2 separate regions of the Homo sapiens genome follow, and region 1 is linked to region 2. The links come from fine-mapping of genetic effects on gene expression. A gene starts in region 2. The other region holds a variant in brackets. All regions are shown on one strand. Distances are from middle to middle. Region 1 has its middle 41 kb from the start of TOB1-AS1. Region 2 holds the start of TOB1 (transducer of ERBB2, 1).

The links. PIP is the estimated chance that this variant, and not a neighbour inherited with it, causes the effect. A credible set is the group of variants that fine-mapping cannot tell apart.
Region 1: its variant is the best candidate, but not a certain one, in a credible set for the expression of TOB1 in whole blood (INTERVAL, PIP 0.77).

Annotation. Positions count from the first base shown.
Region 1 is chr17:50,905,089-50,909,592 of GRCh38, forward strand. No RefSeq gene overlaps it. Among named protein-coding and RNA genes, the nearest start is that of TOB1-AS1, 41 kb to the left of the region's middle. RefSeq lists an enhancer at 3,743-4,504 and a silencer at 4,180-4,474. The variant T/C (reference allele first, on the strand shown) is at 2,467.
Region 2 is chr17:50,864,768-50,868,767 of GRCh38, forward strand. TOB1 (transducer of ERBB2, 1) reads right to left here and starts at 1,587. Exons shown (of 2, transcript NM_005749.4): 1 at 1,291-1,587. TOB1-AS1 (TOB1 antisense RNA 1) reads left to right here and starts at 1,912. Exons shown (of 2, transcript NR_038458.1): 1 at 1,912-2,450; 2 at 2,729-3,604. RefSeq lists an enhancer at 203-252 and silencers at 793-1,402, 1,413-1,922.

The sequences.
Region 1 (4,504 bases), 41 kb after region 2:
CAGCAGCCTAAGCTCCCAGTGATTCTCTGGGGGAGGGATTTCTGATGGGGCTGGTTCTAAAGAAAAGCTCTCCAGGGCAGGGCCTGTGAAACCCAAGGACTGACTGCTGCGGGGGCTGGATAGCCTTTGGGGACAGAGGAGGGGAGAGGGTGGCAGAACCTAAACAGCTGCGGCCGCTGCTTTGTCCAAGGGCAACCCAGCCTCCCAGGTGTGGCCATCACCTCTGCCTCTGACCTGAGTCTCAGACCAGAGCCAGCTGAGGCCTGGGTGCTCCCTTCAGCCCCTTCTGGTTCTGCAATTCAAGGCCCAGTTAACCCCCTGTGGGGTCATAGAGAAGCTTGCAGAGGGTGAAGCCTGGGACCTGATTCTGCTCACCCTGGACTCTGGCCCAGCCAGTGCCTTCTGGCAACAGGGACCCTCTGGGGTCCCAGGAGCCCTGGAACCTCCTCTGCTCCCTCTGGCTCTGTCTCCTGCCCCACCCCCTTCCCTGTTGCCACCTGCACCTGTTTTTCCAGCCTTGCTCAATCTCTCCAATCCACAGGCTGTTTGTTCCCAGGGGTCGCCTCCCCTTATCTCCCAGGCAGCTGTTGGCCATGGCCTGAAGGTACAGAATTCATTGTTAACTCTTCAGCTTCCCTCACACACTCCACCCCCAAAAACCATAGCAGCAAAGAGCACCAGGGAGGGCCCAGGTTTGGGGTCTGGGGTCTGGCCCTCCCTGCTGTGTGACCTTGCCTCATTGTGTGACCTTGAGCTGGTCACTTACCCGCTACACTTCTGTTTTCTCATTGGTAAAATGAGAGCATTTTACCTTTTTATTACCTCAGCTCTGTACCTCTTCCCCCGCCACACACACACACACTCACAAACTCTTTCTCTCTCTCTGTCTCTCTGTTCTTAAAATGTAGGGCTATCAAGTAACACTCATCCAATAATTATTAATTCAGGAGCTGATTTTTTTTTTCCAGACAGTCTCGCTCTTGTCCCCCAGGCTGGAGTGCAGTGGCTCGATCTTGGCTCACCTCTGCCTCCCAGGTTCAAGCAATTCTCCTGCCTCAGCCTCCCAAGTAGCTGGGATTACAGGCACCTGCCACTACGCCCGGCTAATTTTTGTATTTTTAGTAAAGATGGGGTTTTCCCATGTTGGCCAGGCTGGTCTCAAACTCCTGACCTCGTGATCTGCCTACCTCGGCCTCCCAAAGTGCTGGGATTACAGGCATGAGCCACCATGCCCGGCCAGGAGCTGATTTTGTATGAAGCAAAACTAATCAGAGCTTCTGAGCAGCATGTCCTGGTTTTGTTTCATACAAAACAGAATCCTGAATGAGTAATTACTGAATAAATGTACATTTATCATGTCCCTCATAATTCCAGCAATGAAACTTGACATTTTAGTTAAGCCAGTGTACCCTTCTCACAGATAAATATTCTATTTTCTGTTAGGATTTTATAAAGATAAAAAACAGCAACAGGTCTCTTTCTCCCTGCTCTTTTCTGATCTGGGGTGGGGTGTGGGGAGCCAGGAACAGGTGATCTTCCAGACCCCTTGTATTGCTGGGTTAGGAGGCCCACGTGTGTTCCATTGGCGAATACACTAGTCAATCATTAGGCCCATCATCAGTCCCACCTACCAATGCCTGGCCCCCATCAAAGACCAGTACAGAATAGAGAAGGGCCAGCAGGACCGGGGCAGAAAACCCTGCTCCCATCACAAACCCTTCTGCCTCTGCCCGCCCAGCCCACAATGAACACCAGAATTCAGAGCTACTGCCAGTGGAAATGGGAAGGGACCACCTCTGTGAGCACTTTAGGATTTCTCCAAGGGATGAGAAAGACTGGTTAAGAGTTCAGGGGGGCACAGTGGCTCACACCTGCAATCCCAGCACTTTGGGAGGCCGAGGCAGGAGGATCACCTGAGGCCAGGAGTTTGAGACCAGCCTGGTCAACATGGTGAAACCCCGTCTCTACTAAAAATACAAAAATTAGCCAGGCATGGTGGCAGGCACCTGTAATCCCAGCTACTGGGGAGGCTGAGGCAGGAGAATAGCTGGAACCTGGGAGGCAGAGGCTGCAGTGAGCCAAGATTGCGCCACTGCACTCCAGCCTGGGCAACAGAGTGAGACTCTGTCTCAAAAAACAAAAAAAAAAAAAAAAAGGCTGGGCACAGTGGCTCACGCCTGTTATCCCTGCGCTTTGGGAGGCTGAGGCGGGTGGACCATGAGGTCAAGAGATCAAGACCATCCTGGCCAACGTGGTGAAACCCTGTCTCTACTAAAAAAAAAAAAAAAAAAAAAAACTCTACTAAAAAACAAAAACAAAATACAAAAAAATTAGCTGGGCATGGTGGCATGCGCCTGTAGTCCCAGTTAGTCAGGAGGCTGAGGCAGGAGAATCACTTGAACCCGGGAGGCGGAGGTTGCAGTGAGCCGAGATTGCACCACTGCACTCTAACCTGGGGCGAGACTC[T/C]GTCTCAAAAAAGAAAAAAAAATCCATTCCCTACTGGACAGTCTACCATGATGTCTTAGAGGTGCCTCAAATTCAATTTGTTTAAACCAACCCATTGTTCTCCCTCTGGGGATGGGAGGGATGCCCCTCTGGCTGAAACCCCAACCTATACATCTGACCGTCAATCACCCAGGCTCTGCCTTCTGACCCTTAACTCCCCTCAGCCCCTGTCAGGACTTCTAGGCCAGAGCTCCAGTTCCTAATGGTGTTTTCTCCTTCACCTCCCTCAGCCCAGTCCTCACCAGGGCCCTCATGGCTCATGGTGGGGGCCTCCCATCTTCCCACCCATCACCACACTGGAGCCAGGGGGCTTTTTCACATCACCTGTGATTGATCATCCGTAGCCTTGATCAAAACCTTCAGTGACTTCATGCAAGGACACAACATGTATGCGAGACAATGGGGAGAAAAACAGGGAGTAACTAAAGTTCTTGGGGGAAAGGTGGTGAACCACTAATCACTCCAGACCTTTAATTTCACAAATGAGAGATATGAGACTCAGAGACACAGAGTACCCAGCTCAAGGTCACCCAGCAAGGCAGAGGGAGATGGTGTATTTGGGGGACAGTGACGCTCTGTCCCACCTGGCATGCTGTCCACCCCCCATGTCCTCACTGGGCACTGTACTCCAGCCACATGGAGCTTCTGTGTGCCCTAAACTTGAACAGCTCTTTCACTCTACTTCCTTCCTCATGTAGGCATGTCCTTCCTCTCCTCCCCACATCCACAGTCCTAGCCACCCGCCCAGGCCCAGCTCAAGTGCTGCCTCCTCCAGGAAGGCTTCCCTGAATGCCTATGCTGACCTCCTCTGCATGCCTTCCCTCCCATCACTCAGCATTCTCAGGTTTGGTTAGAATCATTCTTGGGCATGTCCTCCAGACAGGGTGGGACTTGTCTTACTCACCTTCATATCTTCAAGAGCACCCTGCACAGTGCCTGGCCTGTCACAGGTGCTCGACAGGTATTTCTGGAAGGAATTATCATTACATTTATATTGTCATTATGCATGTCTGGCATTGACAGTTGAGTCAGCCACTGTGCTCAGTGTACGAGTCAGAAGACATGCGTCTTCAAAACAGTCCCAACGATTAGCCCCATTTCACAGATGAGGAAACTCAGGCTCAAAGGAAATTGATTGCTTGCCCTGGGTCCCACTGCTGGAAGGAGGCAGAGTTGAAACTTGACCCCAAGTGCGGCTGATTCTAAAGCCTGTGACTCTTTGTTTTTGTTTTTGTTTTAAAGACGGAGTCTTGCTGTGTTGCCCAGGCTGGAGTGCAGTGGCATGATCTCTGTTCACTTCAACCTCCGCCTCCTGAGTTCAAGCGATTCTCCTGCCTCAGCTTCCCAAGCAGCTGGACTACAGGTATGTGCCACCATGCCCGGCTAATTTTTATAATTTTAGTAGAGACGGAGCTTCACCATGTTGGCCAGGCTGGTCTCAAACTCCTGACCTCAGGTGATCTGCCTGCCTCTGCCTCCCAAAGTACTGGGATTACATGTGTGAGCCATAGCATCTGGCCCAGCCAAGCCTATAACTCTTAATCTCTGTGTTCTCTCTGCAGCAGGGATGACGGCGCTCCTGGAGGCTGGCTGGGAAGCTGGTCAGGGTCCCAGGACTCTGACACCCCCAATGGCCCTTGTAGCCTTGGGGAGTCCTGTGATCCAAGGCTGGAGGACTGAGTCCCCTCCAGGTCTCATAGCAGACGAATAGCAGCTTCACCCAGGCCTGTTTTGTCGTGGCCCCATTCAGAGGCCGCCCTCCTCTGTGGTTTAGAGCATGCCCTGGAATCCCTAGCACAACCAGGTGACGAGAGTTCCCCGCTGGCCCCCTGCCGCGGGAACACAAAGTACCTTTGCACATAACCTTTCTTTGTCCTCTGCTGGTGACGGCAAATAGGGCAGGCCCAGGGCAACGTGGTAAGGTGGCAGAAGTTTGTTTTGGACAGTGTTTGCAGCTTCTCTGTTCCCTTTCCACCAGGGGTTACCTCCTGCTGGCTGA
Region 2 (4,000 bases):
CAAATTATTCTATATAGTTTCGGCCTTAAGTATACTAAGAGCATACAATATAATAAAATCCAGCTTCTCTGGGCCTTTTGTTTTCAATGTGTATTTTTCTAAATCTGAAAATACCTATTCGGCAGCAAGTATAACAAAAGCAAAGACACAAATTAAAACTATTGATTATTCTGTTTAAGGCCAGGGTTTCTGAGTTTTAGTCTGATTTTAAAAAACCTCCGTCTGTCCCTCTCTCCCTCCCTCCCTCTCACGGTAACAGCCGGAGAGGCAAGTATGGTAAGGTCGACCTTTAAACGTTTGCTGGATCAGCACTGGGTGGGGATAAGAAAAGATCAAGGGCAAACAGAAGATATTTGCGAAAGGGATCTATTTGCACACTGAAGTTGATTTAAAAGTACGTTTAAAAATCAAGTTGGTCTTAATTCGTCTGTTCTATTTTCCATATTCGTGGTGACAAAGGGAAAAAGAATCTCTGGCTGCCCCCAAACTACAAACACTTTCCAAGTCAAAAGCCTGAGTGCCGGCAGAGGCAGCTGATTAAGCCCAATTGCTTGAAGGTGCAGCCGAGCGAAATTCAGGCTCGGTGGAAGGTAGTTACAAAGCAACGCCTTAAGACAGGCAGGAGTGTGAAGAATTACATAAACAGCCAGTTAGATCTCATTAGATTTCTGCTCACAGCCCTCGGAGCCCAAGCGCTACAGCAGCAGCAACAGCAAGAGGAGGTGGAGGTGGAGGAGGAAGAGAGTACGAGCCTCCTCGGAGAAGGAGGAGGAAGGCCCGGGAAATGGAAGAGCAACCTCTCCCGGCTGGGCACCCAGCACCGAGCAGGTCGGGGCGCCGGGTCAGCCGCTCCCCTCCCCCGCCGTAACCCGACCCGCTGCTCCCCGCCCCGTGGCCCCCGCCCCGGGCTCCTGGGAGCCGGCCAGAGCCTGGGGGAGCACCGGTTCCTCGGCACCATTTTCAGCCTCGCGGCCACCGGCCCCTCGAACCCCAGCGTTCCACCGCGAGCTCGTCGCTCCTCCGGGCACCCCAACCCCCCAATTCCCGTCAGCTCGCCCCGGGCCGCCCGTCCCCGGCCAACTGCCCAGGACGAGCCCGACGCGCCGGCGGCCCCTCGGAGCCGCTCCCCTCGGGTCCTGGCGCTGCCCCCTCGGCGCCCAGGGCCGCGACCCCGCCGTCCCCGAGCTCCCGAGGGCCCAGGGCTCGACGCCGCTGCAGCCCCTCCTCCGCCGCCTGGGCCCGGGGCTCCCGTCTCCTCGCCGACCCCGCCCGGCGCCCCGAGATACTTACGGGCTGCTTCGGGGCGGCTTGGACCACAGACCCGCGGCTGGGCGGGGAGCAGCGCGGCAGGGCGGGGGCGCGGGAGGGTCGGGAGCGGCGAGCTCGCCGAGTGCAAGACGTTGCCGCTGCGGGGCTGAGGACAGAGGACAGAGGCCTCGGGCAGGCCTTGGGAGATCGCCGTTAGTGGCTCGGGGTGGCGGGCACGGGGGTCAGACGAGCGCGCTCACTTCTCCACACAGCCCGGTGCCCGGCCCAGCGTCCCCGTAGTGCGCCCGCTACACGCCGGGCCAGAGCTTCGCTCCTTCTGCCGCGGCGCGCGCCCCGCCTCTCGTTTTATGGCCTCCTCCCCGCCCCCATCCCCTCCGTCGGGGTGCGCGCGCCCGCTCCGCGTCACACAGCTCCGGCGGCGCAGCCATTCCCCGCGCTCCCCGCCCGGCACCCCGGTCCCCCGCCGGCCGGCTCCGCCCCTGCCCTGCCCCCCGACGCCATTGGCCAAGTCCCGCCTGCCCCTGTCCGGACGCGCGGCGGACGCAGGGGTGGGGAAGCCGCACCCTCCGGGCTCCAGGAGGGCCAATGAACCGACGATCGGAGCACTGGGGACGGAATGAAGAGAACGTCTGGAAAGGGACTGTGGGGGCAGACGTGCCAATGAGAGAGAAAGGGGTGGGGTAGGGCGGCTGACGCCCGGTTTAGGCGGAGAGCGCCGGGCAGAGGGGGAGGGGGACGAAGCTGGTGGCGAAGCGGCTCAGGAGAACCGGGGCTGGAGGAGCGGCAAGAGTACCCAGAAAGTGCCCTCTCCGCGGGGGTCTGCGGCCAAGGAGGATCCTGCTCGTGGAATAGCTACCAAATCGGCCTCCAGCCCACCCCAGGGGCGGGGTAGAGAAAGGGCAAACTGTGACCGGGACTTGTGCACCCGATTAATTGAATATTAATCACCCCAAGGCCTAGGCCAACCGCCACCCAGAGAGTGGCAGCTGCAGAACCCAAAGACGTGGAGCCGGGCTGGGGGTGGGGAAGGGAGGCCGCCACAGCTCCCGCCCCGCCGGCAGTTTAACTGCTTCCGCAGCCTCAGGCCTCCCGGTGCGACCCCGGCTGCGACTCGGATCCGTTTATTCCAAATGTCCCAGCCCACGCCGTGCCCAGAGTGTGGCGACACGAGGCCAAACTGCGTATGTATCTGTGTCCATGTCTACACACACACGCATGCGTGCATTTCTAGGGCTTGCTGGATCGCAGGTGCACAGAATAAACGCGGTGCCTGCTTGTAAAGCGCGTTTAAGATCATTCTTGGCTGAAATATGTGCGGGTACCTAGGGAGTGGGGTAAGAGAGGGACTCGTGGTGGGGGGCGGGTAAGTGCCTTTTTCACAACCTGCCCCAGAGAAATACACGAAATTACATCGGGAGTGGAATCGAGCGTCCCTCTCAGCTAAAAATATTACTCACAGGTAGCAACGACGCCTGATTGGCTGCGCTGGTCCCTTCGCAACGAGGCGATTGGCTGCCTGGTATCCAGGAGACCGACGTCAAACTCGGACTGGGAAAAGGGGAAAGTCTGGGGGGAGCGAAGGAGGGGACGGGGAGAAAGAAGCAATGAATGAAACGCCCATCGCCTGGCCTTCCCCTTTCCCCTTTCCCCTCTCCTCTCCATTCTTGGAGCACTTCCTGGAAAAACACCAGTTGGGGCGCCGCCTTCCCCTCCAAACGTTGGGGCCTGCACTCTCAACCTGCTATAAGGAAGTTAAACCGCAGCTCACCGAGGAGTAGGGTGTCTACGGGGCGGGCCCGTGTAGACCAGCTGTGCTCCTCGGGCACAAACCCGCCGTACATGCCAGGCCTAGAAGCTTTTGGCTTTGTGGACGCAAAATCTGGTTGGAGCCGCCTTCTCCACCCTGACTCTCCCGCCTCTCCTTTTTAGAAGGAACCGCACTGAGAAAGGGTATTTCTGAAGGCTCAATGCGTAGGAGAAGGGGTGGGAAGATGGGTTTGTGGAATGGGCTGAGGGTGGGGAGTGGTCAGGTGACTGATTTCATGTTTATTGTACAGATTCCTAAAACATAGTTTTACTAAGTGACTCCTTAAATTCTGATTAATGTGATTTTTTTTTTTTTTTGAGTGTTTGGGTTTTTTAGTTGCAAACAGGAGTGGAATTGAAATGTGAAAGTATGGCAAAACTGTGAAAGCATTTAAATTAAAATGTCCCTTCCTCTGCATTGAAATGTCATCAAAGCGTCAAATATAAATGATTTGTTCAGTTTTCTTTTTTTATTTGTTTGTTTTTGGTTTTCTGTAATGACAAGTCCATCTGTAATAAAAGTGAGTTATTTTTAGTTTTCTAATTAAGCACAGAAATTTCAAGAAACTAGACAGGATATCCTTGGAATGCCTTACCAAAAGAAACACTTCATTTTTCACGTGTTCTAGAAGCACAACTTCTTTTACCATTAGGCAAATAATGGTACTGTACCAAACATCTAGAACTGCGGGACCATGTGTCTTGATTAGTAATTTTATATTGGGGGGGCATATTAGGCATGGCTGAGACTAAAATGTCTAAAGATAGATGAATTGTAATTTTGTCAAACTTATCTGTACTTTTCAATAATTCTCTAAAGAGAAGGGACAAGTTCTCTTTTCTGAATGTCTTCAATCTGTAATTCCAGATTTGAAATATGAGAGCAGTCATCTGATAGGTACTGATTAAATATCAGTAGCATTAA